Linked DNA regions of Homo sapiens: region 2 is linked to region 1. A link means that fine-mapping ties the variant in region 1 to the expression of a gene that starts in the linked region. Tissue or cell type: nasal epithelium. Region 1 holds a variant in brackets; the other region holds the start of a gene. All regions are shown on one strand. Distances are between the middles of the regions.

Region 1 (8,109 bases):
ACAAGAGATAGAAAACGCATGACTGATTATAATGTTTTATCACTTCCTTTGTGCACAATGACATATTTTCCCCATATTATTTATAATGGAGAGCTAAATAAACACTATTTACTAAAAGTCAAAGTAGCAGGATACTAGGACTTCAGCAATGGCTGATGAGCTAATGAAAGACACTGTATTACACATATCAAACTCTCCTGAAAATTTGTCGTCGGCAAGCATTCTTTCCAATATAGTATTTAAAAATGTCAATGCTGAAGCTTTTTAATTTCATAACTAAAATTATATTTTATGCTTATTAAATGCTAACCATGTTTATCTGTATTCACATGGTATATATGGAATAGTCACTACTTCAGTATTATATGTTGAAAATATAATAAAAATTTGGAATCTTCATTTATACTTAGTTACTTACATTTATGTGTATGTATAAATGTAAATTATACCTAGTTTGGTTAAAAATCAAGTTGAAACATTTATGTTTTAGCCACCAAAATTAATAATTTTATGAAAGCATATGAAAGGTAATGGATTACATGCAAATAAATAGCATATAGAGAATGAGAACACAGAACCTAACATCTGGCTCTGTCACTTGGATGCTCTTTGACTATCTTCAAGTGATATGACCCATTACAATTAAGTTTACTTAAATATAAAATAGGCTTCTTAGTAGTAGCAAACTCCATGGCTTGTATGGGAATGGAATGATCAACTGTTTGAAAGTACACAATACTTGAATTTTCACTATATGTTGTCATTTTATTATGATGATTATGTCACATCATCATCTCTTCTTGTTAAAATAATAAGCAGTAGGGTCGGGCGCGGTGGCTCAGGCCTGTAATATCAGCACTTTGGGAGGCCGAGGTGGGTGGATCACCTGAGGTCAGCAGTTTGAGACCAGTGGGCCAACGTGGCAAAACCCCATCTCTACTAAAAATACAAAATTAGCCAGGCATGGTGGCAGACGCCTGTAATCCCAGCTACTAGGGAGGCTTGAGGCAAGAGAATCACTTGAACCCAGGAGGCAGAGGTTGCAGTGAGCCAAGATCGCACCACTTCACTCCAGCCTGGGTGACAGCGCAAGACTTCATCTCAAAATAAACGAATGAATAAATAGATAAATAAATAAATAAAATAGCAGTAATCCTCAAAGATTTATTTATTAGGATATTACAAAATATACTTCCCACATGATTTCTTCTTCTTTTCTTTTTTTTTTTTTTTTGGTTTTTTTGAGACAGGATCTCACTCTGCCACCCCGGCTGGAAGGCAGTGGCCTTGGATCACTGCAGCCTCAACTGCACTGGTTCAGGTAATCCTTCCACTTCAGCCTCTTGGGTAGCTGGAACTACAGGCATGCATCACCATGCCTGGCTAATTTGTTGTATTTTTTGTAGAGAGAGTTTCACCATGTTGGTCTCAAACTCCTGGGCTCAAGCTATCTGCCTGCCTCAGCCTCTCAAACTTCTCATATTAACTGATATAAAACATTGTTCCATCATATTGAACTTGCAAACTAGACTTGTTTACTTAATGCAACATATTATTCACTAGATTAAGGGTTTTTGATATATTAACGCCATTATGTATAGACGAATGCTATTTCATGAAACCAACCTTCATTTGATCTAAAATACAATTTATTATTTCTAACTTAGTGCAACACATAATTATAAAGCATTTTCTATGTCTTGTTTTATGAGTTACTTTTTTAAAAATATTTTTATTTATTTATTTACTTTTTAGAGAAGGCGTCTCACTCTGTTGCCAAGGCTGGAGTGCAGTGGTGCTATCATAGCTCACTGCAGCCTTGAATTCCTGGACTCTAGTGATCCTCCTGCCTCAGTCTCTTGAATAGCTAGGACTACAGGCATGTGCCACCATGCGCAGCTATGAGTTGCCTCTTGACAGTATTTATTGGCAATTACTTTGGAGTAGAATATAATTTTTTATCCTCTTTTTTCCAGAGTAATTCAGAAGGATATGTACATAAAGAATATAGCAAATGTTCCTTTCATATCCTTGCATTTACTTTCACTATTTTCACTTAATTGTATATTTCATTACAATCCAGTTAGTCTCACAATGCACTATCCTTCATTACAGATTTGCCAAAAACACTGGTGTAACCCCTTTAATGAACATAGAAATCCACCCTAGTGCTACAGAGGGTAATTGCTACTTGTGCATCACTATCCAAAGGCAGGACTTTATCTAATTTATCTCATTTAACTTTCCTCATTAATTTTCTCTCATTTATCTTTCTTATACCTCCTATCTTAATCCTATTTTCTTTTTTTATTCTTTTCTACATTTTTTTTCTCATTTTAGTAGCTGGCACTTATCTATATCAAATATCCTGTAATTGGATTTTGCCTAGTTGCCTAAACATTGATGGAGATTTTGTACTGCCTTGTAATTCGGCCTATGATTTTTGTCAATAAACCCTGCTCTTAAAATTACTCAGCATAGTTATTTAAGAGTATAAAGATCAGTACAAACTTCTTCCCTGTTGCTACAACTAGTTGATGTGATATAATTGACAATGATGCAGTTTGAGTATAATTGGAAAAGATGTTCTGCCCTGGAGAGATGACCTAATATAATAAAGTATCACAATTGCTAGATACCACCTAACTTGTAGTTTTCTGCTATAAAACTAATTTTGTTTTAGCCTCATTTTTTCTTGTGAAGAAAATCTTATATTTTATGTTTCAGACAGAAACTTTGAGATATTGTCTGTGATGAGAGAAAAATTCTATTGTATGATAAAATTCACTTTTAAGAATTGATTTCTGAAGCACCAGGTGAACCATCTGAGAGATTAACTTAACTTGAGAATCCAGGGAAATGGTTAAAACTATCAGCTGAAAAAAGTAATTGAATCATCATGGCTTCCCTGTGGTATTTGTGGCTCCAATGATGAAATCAAATTAGCTATATAAGATAAAAATTAGTTAAGGCTGTTAATCATGAAAGGCCAAAATATTGGTCAGGCTCAGAGACATGGCCCTATTATATGTCATGGGTTATACAATAATTAGAAAGGTAGACCAAGGTAGTATAAGACTAAGAACTTAATTAGAAAAGGAGGTGAGTCATGAATGAGTTCACTTTTATTAAATACCAGCTGGATGCAAGTGACTGCAACAGAAGCTACAGGGAAATATTACAGAATATAACTGAGTAACTCTCCTAATATTATCTATATGTATTAATGATTGACAATTAATGCAATCTATAGGAATGTTTTTAGGTGTGATTGTTTCTACTAGGATGCAAAACTAGTATCAGCTCACCAATATCACAGATATCATGCTGCTAATTTTAATGTAATAATGAGGCAGCCAAGTAAAAAGGGGTCCCTGGAGAATACCCAACCGGCCTGTGCACTGGGAGAATGGGGTGGAGCCTCGGGAAGTTCCCGCCTTTGTAGGGGGGAGCAGGCTGGCTCTCCTCTTCCTGTGTGGTAACCTGGGATTCAATCTGTGAGGGGGTAAACCAGCTAACAGGACTCTCTTGCTTTGCTGAGGGTTCCTGTTTCCCTTTTTTCCTTTGCACCCAATAAACCCTGCCCTACTCACCCTACAATATGTCCACGTGTCTAAATTATCCTGGTCCTCTGATAAGAACCCGGTTTTTTCCTACAACAATAATATAATCAGTTCTAATAAACTACGTTAGAATCACTCCTAAGGAACATTGTACTAACAAATCTTGTCTTAAAAACAACTGCTAGCAATCAGCGAGACTCCCTGGGCATAGGACCCTCCGAGCCAGGTGTGGGATATAATCTCCTGGTGCACCGTTTTTTAAGCCCGTCGGAAAAGCACAGTATTGGGGTGGGAGTGACCCGATTTTCCAGGTGTTGTCTGTCACCCCTTTCTTTGACTAGGAAAGGGAACTCCCTGACCCCTTGAGCTTCCCCAGTGAGGCAATGCCTCGCCCTGCTTCGGCTCATGCAAGGTGCACTGCACCCACTGACCTGTGCCCACTGTCTGGCACTCCCTAGTGAGATGAACCCAGTACCTCAGATGGAAATGCAGAAATCACCCATCTTCTGCGTCGCTCATGCTGGGAGCTGTAGACCGGAGCTGTTCCTATTTGGCCATCTTGGCTCAGTCTCGCTGATTGCTAGCACAGCAGTCTGAGATCAAACTGCAAGGCAGCAGCGAGGCTGGGGGAGGGGCACCCGCCATTGCCCAGGCTTGATTAGGTAAACAAAGCAGCCAGGAAGCTCAAACTGGGTGC[A/G]GCCCACCACAGCTCAAGGAGGCCTGCCTGCCTCTGTAGGCTCCACCTCTGGGGGCAGGACACAGACAAACAAAAAGACAGCAGTAACCTCTGCAGACTTAAATGTCCCTGTCTGACAGCTTTGAGGAGAGCAGTGGTTCTCCCAGCACGCAGCTGGAGATCTGAGAACGGGCAGACTGCCTCCTCAAGTGGGCCCCTGACCCCTGACCCCCGAGCAGCCTGAGAGGCACCCCCCAGTGGGGGCAGACTGACACCTCACACAGCCGGGTACAACTCTGAGACAAAACTTCCAGAGGAACAAGCAGACAGCAGCATTCGCGGATCACGAAAATCCACGGTTCTGCAGACAATGCTGCTGCTAACTATGCAAACAGGGTCTGGAGTGGACCTCTAGCAAACTCCAACAGACCTGCAGCTGAGGGTCCTGTCTGTTAGAAGGAAAACTAACAAACAGAAAGGACATCCACACCAAAAACCCATCTGTACATCACCATCATCAAAGACCAAAAGTAGATAAAACCACAAAGATGGTGAAAAAACAGAGCAGAAAAACTGGAAACTCTAAAAAGCAGAGCGCCTCTCCTCCTCCAAAGGAACGCAGTTCCTCACCAGCAACGGAACAAAGCTGGACGGAGAATGACTTTGACGAGTGCAGAGAAGAAGGCTTCAGATGATCAAACTGCTCCGAGCTACAGGAGGAAATTCAAACCAAAGGCAAAGAAGCTGAAAACTTGGAAAAAAATTTAGATGAATGTATAACTAGAATAACCAATACAGAGAAGTGCTTAAAGGAGCTGATGGAGCTGAAAGCCAAGGCTCGAGAACTACGTGAAGAATGCAGAAGCCTCAGGAGCTGATGCGATCAACTGGAAGAAAGGGTATCAGTGACGGAAGATGAAATGAATGAAATGAAGTGAGAAGGGAAGTTTAGAGAAAAAAGAATAAAAGGAAACGAACAAAGCCTCCAAGAAATATGGGACTATGTGAAAAGACCAAATCTGTGTCTGATTGGTGTACCTGAAACTGACGGGGAGAATGGAACCAAGTTGGAAAACACTCTGCAGGATATTATCCAGGAGAACTTCCCCAATCTAGCAAGGCAGGCCAACATTCAGATTCAGGAAATACAGAGAACGCCACAAAGATACTCCTCGAGAAGAGCAACTCCAAGACACATAATTGTCAGATTCACCAAAGTTGAAATGAAGGAAAAAATGTTAAAGGCAGCCAGAGAGAAAGGTCGGGTTACCCACAAAGGGAAGCCCATCAGACTAACAGCTGATCTCTCAGCAGAAACTCTACAAGCCAGAAGAGAGTGGGGGCCAATATTCAACATTCTTAAAGAAAAGAATTTTCAAGCCAGAATTTCATATCCAGCCAAACTAAGCTTCATAAGTGAAGGAGAAATAAAATACTTTACAGACAAGCAAATGCTGAGAGATTTTGTCACCACCAGGCCTGCCCTAAAAGAGCTCCTGAAGGAAGCACTAAACATGGAAAGGCACAACCGGTACCAGCTGCTGCAAAATCATGCCAAAATGTAAAGACCATTGAGACTAGGAAGAAACTGCATCAACTAATGTGCAAAATCACCAGCTAACATCATAATGACAGGATCAAATTCACACATAACAATATTAACTTTAAATGTAAATGGACTAAATGCTCCAATTAAAAGGCACAGACTGGCAAATAGGATAAAGAGTCAAGACCCATCATTGTGCTGTATTCAGGAAACCCATCTCACATGCAGAGACACACATAGGCTCAAAATAAAAGGATGGAGGAAGATCTACCAAGCAAATGGAAAACAAAAAAAGGCAGGGGTTGCAATCCTAGTCTCTGATAAAACAGACTTTAAACCAACAAAGATCAAAAGAGACAAAGAAGGCCATTACATAATGGTAAAGGGATCAATTCAACAAGAAGAGCTAATTGTCCTAAATATATATGCACCCAATACAGGAGCACCCAGATTCATAAAGCAAGTCCTGAGTGACCTACAAAGAGACTTAGACTCCCACACAATAACAATGGGAGACTTTAACACCCCACTGTCAACATTAGACAGATCAATGAGACGGAAAGTTGACAGGGATACCCAGGAATTGAACTCAGCTCTGCACCAAGCGGACCTAATAGACATCTACAGAACTCTCCACCCTAAATCAACAGAATATACATTTTTTTCAGCACCACACCACACCTATTCCAAAATTGACCACATAGTTGCAAGTAAAGCTCTCCTCAGCAAATGTAAAAGAACAGAAATTATAAAAAACTGTCTCTCAAACCACAGTGCAATCAAACTAGAACTCAGGATTAAGAAACTCACTCAAAACTGCTCAACTACATGGAAACTGAACAACCTGCTCCTGAATGACTACTGGGTACATAACGAAATGAAGGCAGAAATAAAGATGCTCTTTGAAACCAACGAGAACAAAGACACAACATACCACAATCTCTAGGACACATTCAAAGCAGTGTGTAGAGGGAAATTTATAGCCCTAAATGCCCAGAAGAGAAAGCAGGAAAGATCCAAAATTGACACACTAACATCACAATTAAAAGAACTAGAAAAGCAAGAGCAAACACATTCAAAAGCTAGCAGAAGGCAGAAATAACTAAAATCAGAACACAACTGAAGGAAATAGAGACATAAAAAACCCTTCAAAAAATTAATGAATCCAGGAGCTGGTTTTTTGAAAGGATCAACAAAATTGATAGACCGCTAGCAAGACTAATAAAGAAGAAAAGAGAGAAGAATCAAATAGACGCAATAAAAAATGATAAAGGGGATATCATCACCGATCCCACAGAAATACAAACTACCATCAGAGAATACTACAAACACCTCTACGCAAATAAACTAGAAAATCTAGAAGAAATGGATAAATTCCTCGACACATACACTCTCCCAAGACTAAACCAGGAAGAAGTTGAATCTCTGAATAGACCAATAACAGGATCTGAAATTGTGGCAATAATCAATAGCTTACCAACCAAAAAGAGTCCAGGACCAGATGGATTCACAGCCAAATTCTACCAGAGGTATAAGGAGGAACTCGTACTAATTCCTTCTGAAACAATTCCAAACAACAGAAAAAGAGGGAATCCTCCCTAACTCATTTTATGAGGCCAGCATCATCCTGATACCAAAGACTGGCAGAGACACAACCAAAAAAGAGAATTTTAGACCAATATCCTTGATGAACATTGATGCAAAAATCATCAATAAAATACTGGCAAACTGAATCCAGTAGCCCATCAAAAAGCTTGTCCACCAAGATCAAGTGGACTTCATCCCTGGGATGCAAGGCTGGTTCAATACACGCAAATCAATAAATGTAAACTAGCATATAAACAGAACCAAAGACAAAACCCACATGATTATCTCAATAGATGCAGAAAAGGCCTTTGACAAAATTCAACAACCCTTCATGCTAAAAACTCTCAATAAATTAGGTATTGATGGGACGTATCTCAAAATAATAAGGGCTATCTATGACAAAACCACAGCCAATATCATACTGAATGGGCAAAAACTGGAAGCGTTCCCTTTGAAAACTGGCACAAGACAGGGATGTCCTCTCTCACCACTCCTATTCAACATAGTGTTGGAAGTTCTGGCCAGGGCAATCAGGCAGTAGAAGGAAATAAAGGGTATTCAGTTAGGAAAAGAGGAAGTCAAATTGTCCCTGTTTGCAGATGACATCATTGTATATCTAGAAAACCCCATTGTCTCAGCCCAAAATCTCCTTAAGCTCATAAGCAACTTCAGCAAAGTCTCAGGATACAAAATAAATGTGCAAAAATCACAAGCATTCTTATACACCAATAACAGAC
Region 2 (8,099 bases), 540 kb after region 1:
CAACAATATTCAGGATGCATAAATAGAAAACATTTAAAAAGAAGAAAGTTATCATTTTACAACTTAGCAAACTCAACATATTTTTACATGATAAGTTTCTAAAGTATTGTATGGGGATTTTCAGTCTTCTTCATGAGTAAGTTTGGTTAACAACTTCAAGATTTTATCATCAATGGCATCTGAATCCTAAAAAGTTAAAATTCTCTGAGCCAGGAAGTTTTGTGGCAGATAAAGTTATAAACTTCTGAAAAACCGTCAAACTTGTCAGAAGTATACCAGGAATATCATAAGATTCTACCTGCACTTTTCAAGCTACTTCACAGCAACGCTTTATTTTCTAAAAAGTAATAAAATAGCACATGATTATGAACACTGCATAAAATCATGATCACTGAAATATTCCATAATTATAATAAAATTGTTTTTAATTTAGTCTACACTCACAACATCTTAAGGAAAAAAAATATGTACCTTTGAAAATGGTTAGCAATCCTGTGATAGAAAGTAACTGATCATTCTTAATTAAGTTTCAAATGTACTCCTTCACACAGCTGCACACACAATGTGTACTAACCTAATTGTTAGTTGCACCTGCTCCAAGTTAACAATATTTCATACAGCCCATGGCAATAGTGGCATTTTTCAAGTGTTATTCTGTGGAGTGTAAATCTAAACTTTCTTTCAATAGTTTATGACATGTTTTGTGCCACCCAGAAGTCTAAAGTACAAAATAGGGGATTTTGAGTTTCCTTACTTGAAAACAAATCTGTCCTTTCAGTCTAAATTAAGTTATATTCTTTCATATTTTAACGTATTTTTTCACACTGAGAGATATCAGAGTAATTTTTTCCACATTTATAAAAGAACTCTGATTCAATCAAACATTGGGGAAAACATGCCAAAACTTTCACAAGTTGAAAGTTACAAATAGTAAATAAGAAGTTAAAAACTTCTTGTCCTATACCACTACATCCACCATTGCAAATGCAGTGATGATTTTTGTTACTATCTGAAATCTTCAGTTTCTGAGTATTAAGGACAGCAATGATAAAAAGAAAATTACCTTCTTGAGATTATGAGCTTAAGCTCTGGATTCTGCACATGGAATAAATCTGTTTCCAGAGATCATACTCCTTTACGTAGGAATCACCCTAAAATCTGAAGTTGGCATAACCATACAACTCAAAGATTTTAATTTATGATATATATGGAAACAGTTTTTCATAAAATGGAAGTTTTGTATGAATCTCTATGGTATGGAATTCTAGTTTCTTGTTTTATAAACGGATCTCCTGATTTTTGAGAAGAGTATATGTTTATCAATACTTGTAGTCTGCCAAACATTAAATTAAATGTATATTTAACTAATTTAAAGCACAGATATAGAATTCTGACAGGTAAATGTCTCTGAAGAATCTGCCTCTGTCCCTCAATTGTTAAATGGTCAAAACACCGTGTCTGGTCTGATAATAACTTAATAAATGAGATCACCATATCCACAATACCAAAAGCCACCTCATCCTCTCCTAAGATTAGCTGCAAATTGGTACAGATGTAAATATTCCCTTAAATTTATTTAAAATACAAATACTTTGCTCCGAGGACTGGAGATTAATGTTTCCAGAACCTTAATCAAGTCACATAATAAAGCAACTGAATAAAGTTTCTAACTTAGAGTCTCTTTGGCCTTTTTTCCTGTACAGTTACCAAAAAAAAGATGCCCAAATGTTACAAGAACACATACTAAACACTTGAGAAGTAAACAAAACTGGGTTAACTTTTATTTCAGTCAATGGTACATGAGTCATAACTTAGTCTAGAAACCTGGTTTATTTGTAAAACAATCTACTCATAATAGCGCAAAGACATAAAAAGTTTTTAAAAATCTATTGAGAGCAAAAGGAAAACATACACACCCACCTATTTTTTAGTGCAGGGCTTTGCAACTATTAATTTGCAAAAGAATTATTTTATTTAAAATCAAATACCGTATTTCCAAAAAGCAACAATTACCAAGAATCTCTGAGGTCCTTTGAGGTGTGATCATTTCACCCTATCAAAACAATTGCATTTTCTTTGTCCTTTGTTTTTTGTTCTGCATCTGCGTTAACATGGCTGCTAATTATATTAGCCTGGTGGCACATAAAGTCTGAATGGGAAAAATCACATGATTCTCATATAATATAAAAACTCCTTAGGATTCCAATGTACACTTACTTAGATTGTGCTCTTCTGTATTACAGCTACGTCTATTCTGTTAGAGAACTTAATTATAATTCAGAATTTCTGTTTCATAAGTGATGGTGCAACTCTCCAAGACACCATTGTATGTATGGATGCATGCATGTACTCAAGAGCATATGTACATACACACATATGTGAGCACATAAAAACACAAAGGAACCTTTAGCTTTATCATTCTACTTTGAATAGATAGCTTCCCTACTGGTATATTTATGTTTTTCTAAAATTAAGTTCTTGAGGAGTTTGTATTCATCACACAAAATGTCATACAGACCTAGTGCATACATTTGCCATAAGAAAGCCCTATTATATTACATGATTAGAAGTTAAATCACATTTTTCAAATTTTAAATCGAAAAGAGCATAAGAATGATCTACACACCCACTCATTCTCACATTTTTATGCTTTCACACAGTGAATCAGCAAATGTATTCTTTTTCTGAATAATATATAAAAATAAGAATGTTTTGAAAACCTTTATACAGTTTGGCAGACTTAGCCTAATGGGTTGTTTAACAAAGTAAACTCCCTCATTGTTTTGGTTAGCTTTATTATTAAGAGTAAAAATCCTTCATTGCAAAACTTATATGAATCTGTGGTACAGAAAAATAAACTGGTTTACACATCATTGAGAAACTACCACATTCTGAAAATTACATTTATAGTTCCATCTTTGTCTTACAACCAAGTGCATAAGCGCATAAATCACAGATCAAAATAGACACCATCAGATAACTTTCAGGGGAAAGAAAAACATCCTAAGACAACACACAACAAAAAGCACTGTTTCAGCTAAATATTAAACAAAGCAGCAATAACTAACACTCATGGGCTTCACGACAACTGATAAACAAGAACACTTAAGGAATTCCTCTGCCAGTTTCAATGGCAAATCCTTGCTCTTTTGAACACTTTACTGATTGGACACTTAAACATCTTCTGCCTTGTAGTCACTTCAACCTTTATGAAACAGTTGTTGAAAACGGACATGACTATTCCAGTTAATTTATACTTTCTAAGGAAATATATTTAATGACAAGTGTGAGCAAGTAGCTCCTACCTCAAATTAACCACTTAGAGTGGTGTATTTTTCACCTCTCAACTCTCTACTCAGACCCTCCTTCCATTGCCCTTAGGGAATTGAAATTCAGAGACATGACGTTTTCCATTATTGGTTCCTTGCCCCTTTGCAACTGTACAACATTCCTCAAAAAGTACATAGAATTCTCCATCCTATAGGATCAGACAACAGTATCTATTTCAGGAGCAATAATATGCATAATGTAAGACAGAATAGTTTTTCTTGGAATTGTCTGTGTTAATTGTGATTTAAAGGTTACTGGTTCCGTCTATGACAATGGTGTTGCTGAGTTCACCTAAGTATTTTTGTTCAATCTGCATACTTTAAAAACTCAATGTGGCTAAAACTCAAACAGTCTAAATTAGACTGTTGTAAGGATACCATGTGCCCTAAACAGTGGTTTTTTTAGAGCATTATACTTAAAGACAACATTTTCCTTAAAAAAAGAAAAAAAACATGTCTATGAAGAAACAAAGATACTGCAAAATTAGTATAGAGAAGAAAAGTCCAAAATTCCGTATTCCTCTGTTTAACAACCTGTACGGTAAATTGTAGGTGACAATCACGTTGTTACATGAATAGGAATGCAAAGCATAAAGAACAAGAGCTACATCTTGCTTTTCCTAAAGAAATTAAAGACAAGTTTAACCCGCACCTGCCAAACTGTCTTAAAAGGGACAGAAATAGGTGGGAACGGAAAGGCTCACCTCTCCTGTACCCCAGAGTGCGTCTCCCTGAAATCATCTTCAATATAGGCAATATATCTGTCACCTTCTCTTTTATCTTTTTCGTCCATTCTAGTCAATGGCAGACCCTTTGCTGCACTCCCCTGCCCACTATCTCAAAGACACATTACAGAATAAGGGGACCCAAGTGTCACTTACCAGTTGCATGCCACAGATAAAGATAAGCGTGCACCTGCCACTGCAATAACCCATGGTTTCCGAGACCCCTGCCACAGCCAGACTGTCCCACGTCGGCCACCGTCGAGCCCCCACTTTATCCAATCAGATCGCGGGGAAGGACACGCAAACCTGCCGAGGGCTCGGGGGCTCCGGGCTGCTGCTGCTGCCAGCGTCCTGGGAAGTGACAGGCATTAGGACCTGCTGGCGCGGCGGCGGCGGCGGCGGCAGCTCCAGCCGCGCCCGCCACACATACCTTCACTCGCTCGGTGCACACGCCGCGCCGCGGGCAGTGCCGCCTGCGGAGGCGCGCTCGGGGCCCGCAGGGGCAGCAGCGGCAGCCTGGCAGCGCCGCCGCGCCCTCGGGCATCTGGCCCGCGAAGTTTCGCCCCTGCCGCTCTCCGCGCCGCTCGCCTCACGCCCCCCAGCGCGGCCGCCGCCCGACGCGCGCTCGCCCTGCGCTCGCCGCGCGCCGGCTCCGGGGGCGGCAGAAGCGCGCGAGGGCCGCTGCCCGCCTCCCTGCGCAGCCCGCGGCTCCTAGGCACCCTGCGTTGCTGGGCCCGGCGGGCGGGGGTGGGGCGGGGAGCGGGGCGCGGGCCGAGCGGGGGCGTCCCGGCTCCGCGGTCCCCGGCGGCTGCTGCAGCGGCTGCTGCGCGCAATGATGCGGGTCCGCGCCGCGTCCCAGCAGCGGCGCTGCCCCTCCCTTCGCCCAGATGTGTGAATCCTCCTCCTACAACAAATCCTTCATCCTGCTCCCTGCCGCCCCCTCCCAGGGGGCCAACTTTGAGGACCGCAGGGGCTGCCGCCCAGGCGGCCGCAGGCGGCGGTGTCTAGGCGGAAAGGAGCGGCGCGAAAGCGGCGGCGGCGGGGACCGGGGCCTCGGGGCGAGGAGTCTGGGCGGCATGACCGCGGTTTGCTGAGCTGAAGTCGGTCGTGCTCCCAGAGCCACTCCGCGGGAGCGAACCGAGTGTGTGTGTGCGCGCGCGCTCGGGGGAGAAGGGACCAAGAGGAGGGTTAGGGAAGGAAGCTGGGGTCATGGAACAGGGGTGCAACCGAGGCATCCAGAGCGGCCGGAAAGCCCGAGTGGCGGAGAGGCCAGAGGTGGCGAGAAGGGGCGCGGCGGCACCGGACGCACCGCCCAGCACCTGGCTCCCCTGGGCTCCCGAGGATCTGAAGGGTCGGAGCGCGGAGAGCTACGGAGCCGACCCTGCTTGGGGAAGGGGACCGAGTTGCTGCTGGAGTTGGGAAAAATTAGCAACCGGAGGGAATAGGGATGCAATGAGTTGCTGTTGCTGCTTCAAACTGTTGTTTGTTTTCACTTAAAATACTAAAGAGTCGGAGACTAGTTTAATACTCAGTTACTTCAGCTTCACAGCAGTCCCAGCTGGGTGTGGATTCCTAGTGGAGATGCACCAGCCTCCGCTGAGCACCGGCCTGAAAGCTGTGAAGCGGCTGCTACCTGCAGAGACAGGCTTCGGAGCCCGCTGCTGCCACCTGCGGGCGGAAAGCTGAAGGGCGCAACATGCTGGCCCAAGTGGCTGCCCCTGGGGCGTGGATATTTAGGACCAAGTTTCCTTTTTAGCCCTGGCAGCTAAGGAAAGCAATCCTAACTTTTCCAGGAAGTGAAGATTATTTGTTGAGATCCACTGAGGAACTGACTCATTGGGGTGAAGTGTCGCGATTGATAAGAGGATGGTTTAGGGAGCTAAATAGCAAACAGCTCCCTAGCACCCTTCTTAAGAGATTAAGATGACGAAGCCACATCAAGCAGAGAGCTCTCTGTAGCAACTGGAACTTGGCGCCTACTGAGAAAAATGGCATTTATACAGGATAAAGTTATGCTGGGAACCACAAATAAGGATCCCGAATGATTGCTTCCTTTGAATAAACATTATGACGTATCAGAATGACTAAATACAAATAAATTGAATAGGGCAGAGAGACTATTCTCCAGAGCCTGGCACTGAATTTTCAGAAACGTTTCGTCAGTCCTAGGGAGCCAAAAAGGGATTAACTTTGTTAAATTTATGGAGCACAGATATTTTATTGCTATAATGAGAATGTCTGGTTTTAATCGACCCATTTGTAAAGGGGCTTTTCTTCTGAAAAGTGTCTTTCAATGTTTAATAAAATTCCCAAGAGCCCAATATGTGCTCTTAGGCACTGCAAAGCCTGGAAGGTAATAGTTCCACAACCTTTGGTAAAACTGAAGCCAGTTATCTAGTGGAAAATGTTTCTCTTAGTTGCTCTTCTGTCTTTATACACGTTAGCTGTCCTGTACCTGCTAGGGCTATGGGTATTTTGCATTGCCAAACAGAAAGCTGTAAGTTAATTGACTGTTGAAGAAGCTGCTGCCATACTGTCAAAAGCATTCTATTACCTCCTCAAATTAATCATAGGAACAACACATTTATATGGATCCCTCCGTAATCCTGCAGAGGTTTCCCTGCAACCAGCAATAGCCTGAGTAATCTTTAGGTTGTATAGGAAAGCAGAATGCTATCTGTAGCTGACTCCAGCAGTGCCCCACCATAGTTCTTGGACTGTGCCCTTTCAGTCCATGCTTGCGTTTTTGTAATCACTTGGGACAGTCTGTTTTCTAGCCATTGGAGGTGCTTGGCTGAACAATAAGGTTCCAGCCCTAAGAGCTACCCTCACGCAATAATGGATGGGAATTGGAGGATAAATACCCCAGCTTCTTCAATCCTCATATGGGAAACCGTCAGACATGTTCTAGTCTACACCATTAAGGTCCCCACCGAGATTGAGCCCTAGGTGTCCACAGTAGTAACTGGCTCATTCATGCGCTCTGAATTGGCTTCCTTCCCTTCCATGCCTCATCTCCCTGCTTTCATACCACTGCTTCCTGGGATCACCTCTGAAATAAACCACTCAAATCCTTGTGTCAGAGCCTGCCTCTTGAGAATCCCAACCTAAGGCAGTCTCCAGGGGCTTTTATACCTCATCTGACGTCATTGGCACAGTGTTCTCAGAAGTGTGAACTACAAACAATGTTGAGACTTCACTATGTGCAACTACTGCCTTATGTACTAAACCTACATCGTCTCATTCATTCCTCACAGGAAACACATGAGTTGATACAATGCACATTCTAAAGATATACAAACTCAGAGAGAAATCAAATATTTTTATCACGGGTGCACGTGTTCTTGGCGGCAGAATTAGAATTTGAAGGGCATGATTATAAGACACCAAAATTCGCTTTTCGAACTACTGTACCACACTCCTTTATTTCAATATACTTCCCTGTCATTCTTTTAGAATTCCATACGAAAGTGATGACAAAAATATTTAGAAGAATAATCACACATATTTTATCTCTAAATTGGCATCACATCCTTTACATACAGTATAGGCAATGCCTGACTTATGAAAGGGCACCCTAGTTATAGATGCAATTCTATAACTTAATGTGGCTATGCACTTCCTATTCTGTTTTCTATTATTCCTGGAACTGAGTGTCTTAGTAGAAGAGACTAAAAAGAGAATCCCAACAGTTCCACAGACGTTTGTGAAGGAGAGAGATGTCTCCAATTTGAATGTTGATTGCATTTTCACTTAGAAATAAGGTCATAAACTGTTTTGCTATATAAGGTGTTAGACCTTTTGTTGACTAATATGGTGACATAAGTATTGTGAATTGCCTTGTTTCTATGGGGAAAATGTGCTGCACATTCCACACCTCCATCTGCCTCACCTTCCCGTACTGTTTTAAAGTAGTTTTCAAGGTTGTTTCAGATCTATTATCTCATTTATCTCTCAGAACAACTCATGCAATGCAGTAGGCACACAGCCACTGAGTGAACCGGGTTACAGACTGCTAACACTCAATCACTTCAGCTACACCAAA

What was found. PIP is the estimated chance that this variant, and not a neighbour inherited with it, causes the effect.
Region 2: NKAIN2 starts here. The variant in region 1 is fine-mapped to the expression of NKAIN2 in nasal epithelium (TOPMed, PIP 0.94).

Annotation. Positions count from the first base shown.
Region 1 is chr6:124,344,634-124,352,742 of GRCh38, reverse strand. All of the region lies in intron 2 of NKAIN2 (sodium/potassium transporting ATPase interacting 2), which reads right to left. Among named protein-coding and RNA genes, the nearest start is that of NKAIN2, 540 kb to the right of the region's middle. RefSeq lists an enhancer at 3,773-4,272. The variant A/G (reference allele first, on the strand shown) is at 4,261.
Region 2 is chr6:123,800,366-123,808,464 of GRCh38, reverse strand. It overlaps NKAIN2 (sodium/potassium transporting ATPase interacting 2), which reads right to left and starts at 4,600. Exons shown (of 7, transcript NM_001040214.3): 1 at 4,211-4,600. The coding sequence starts at 4,264. RefSeq lists an enhancer at 5,795-5,844.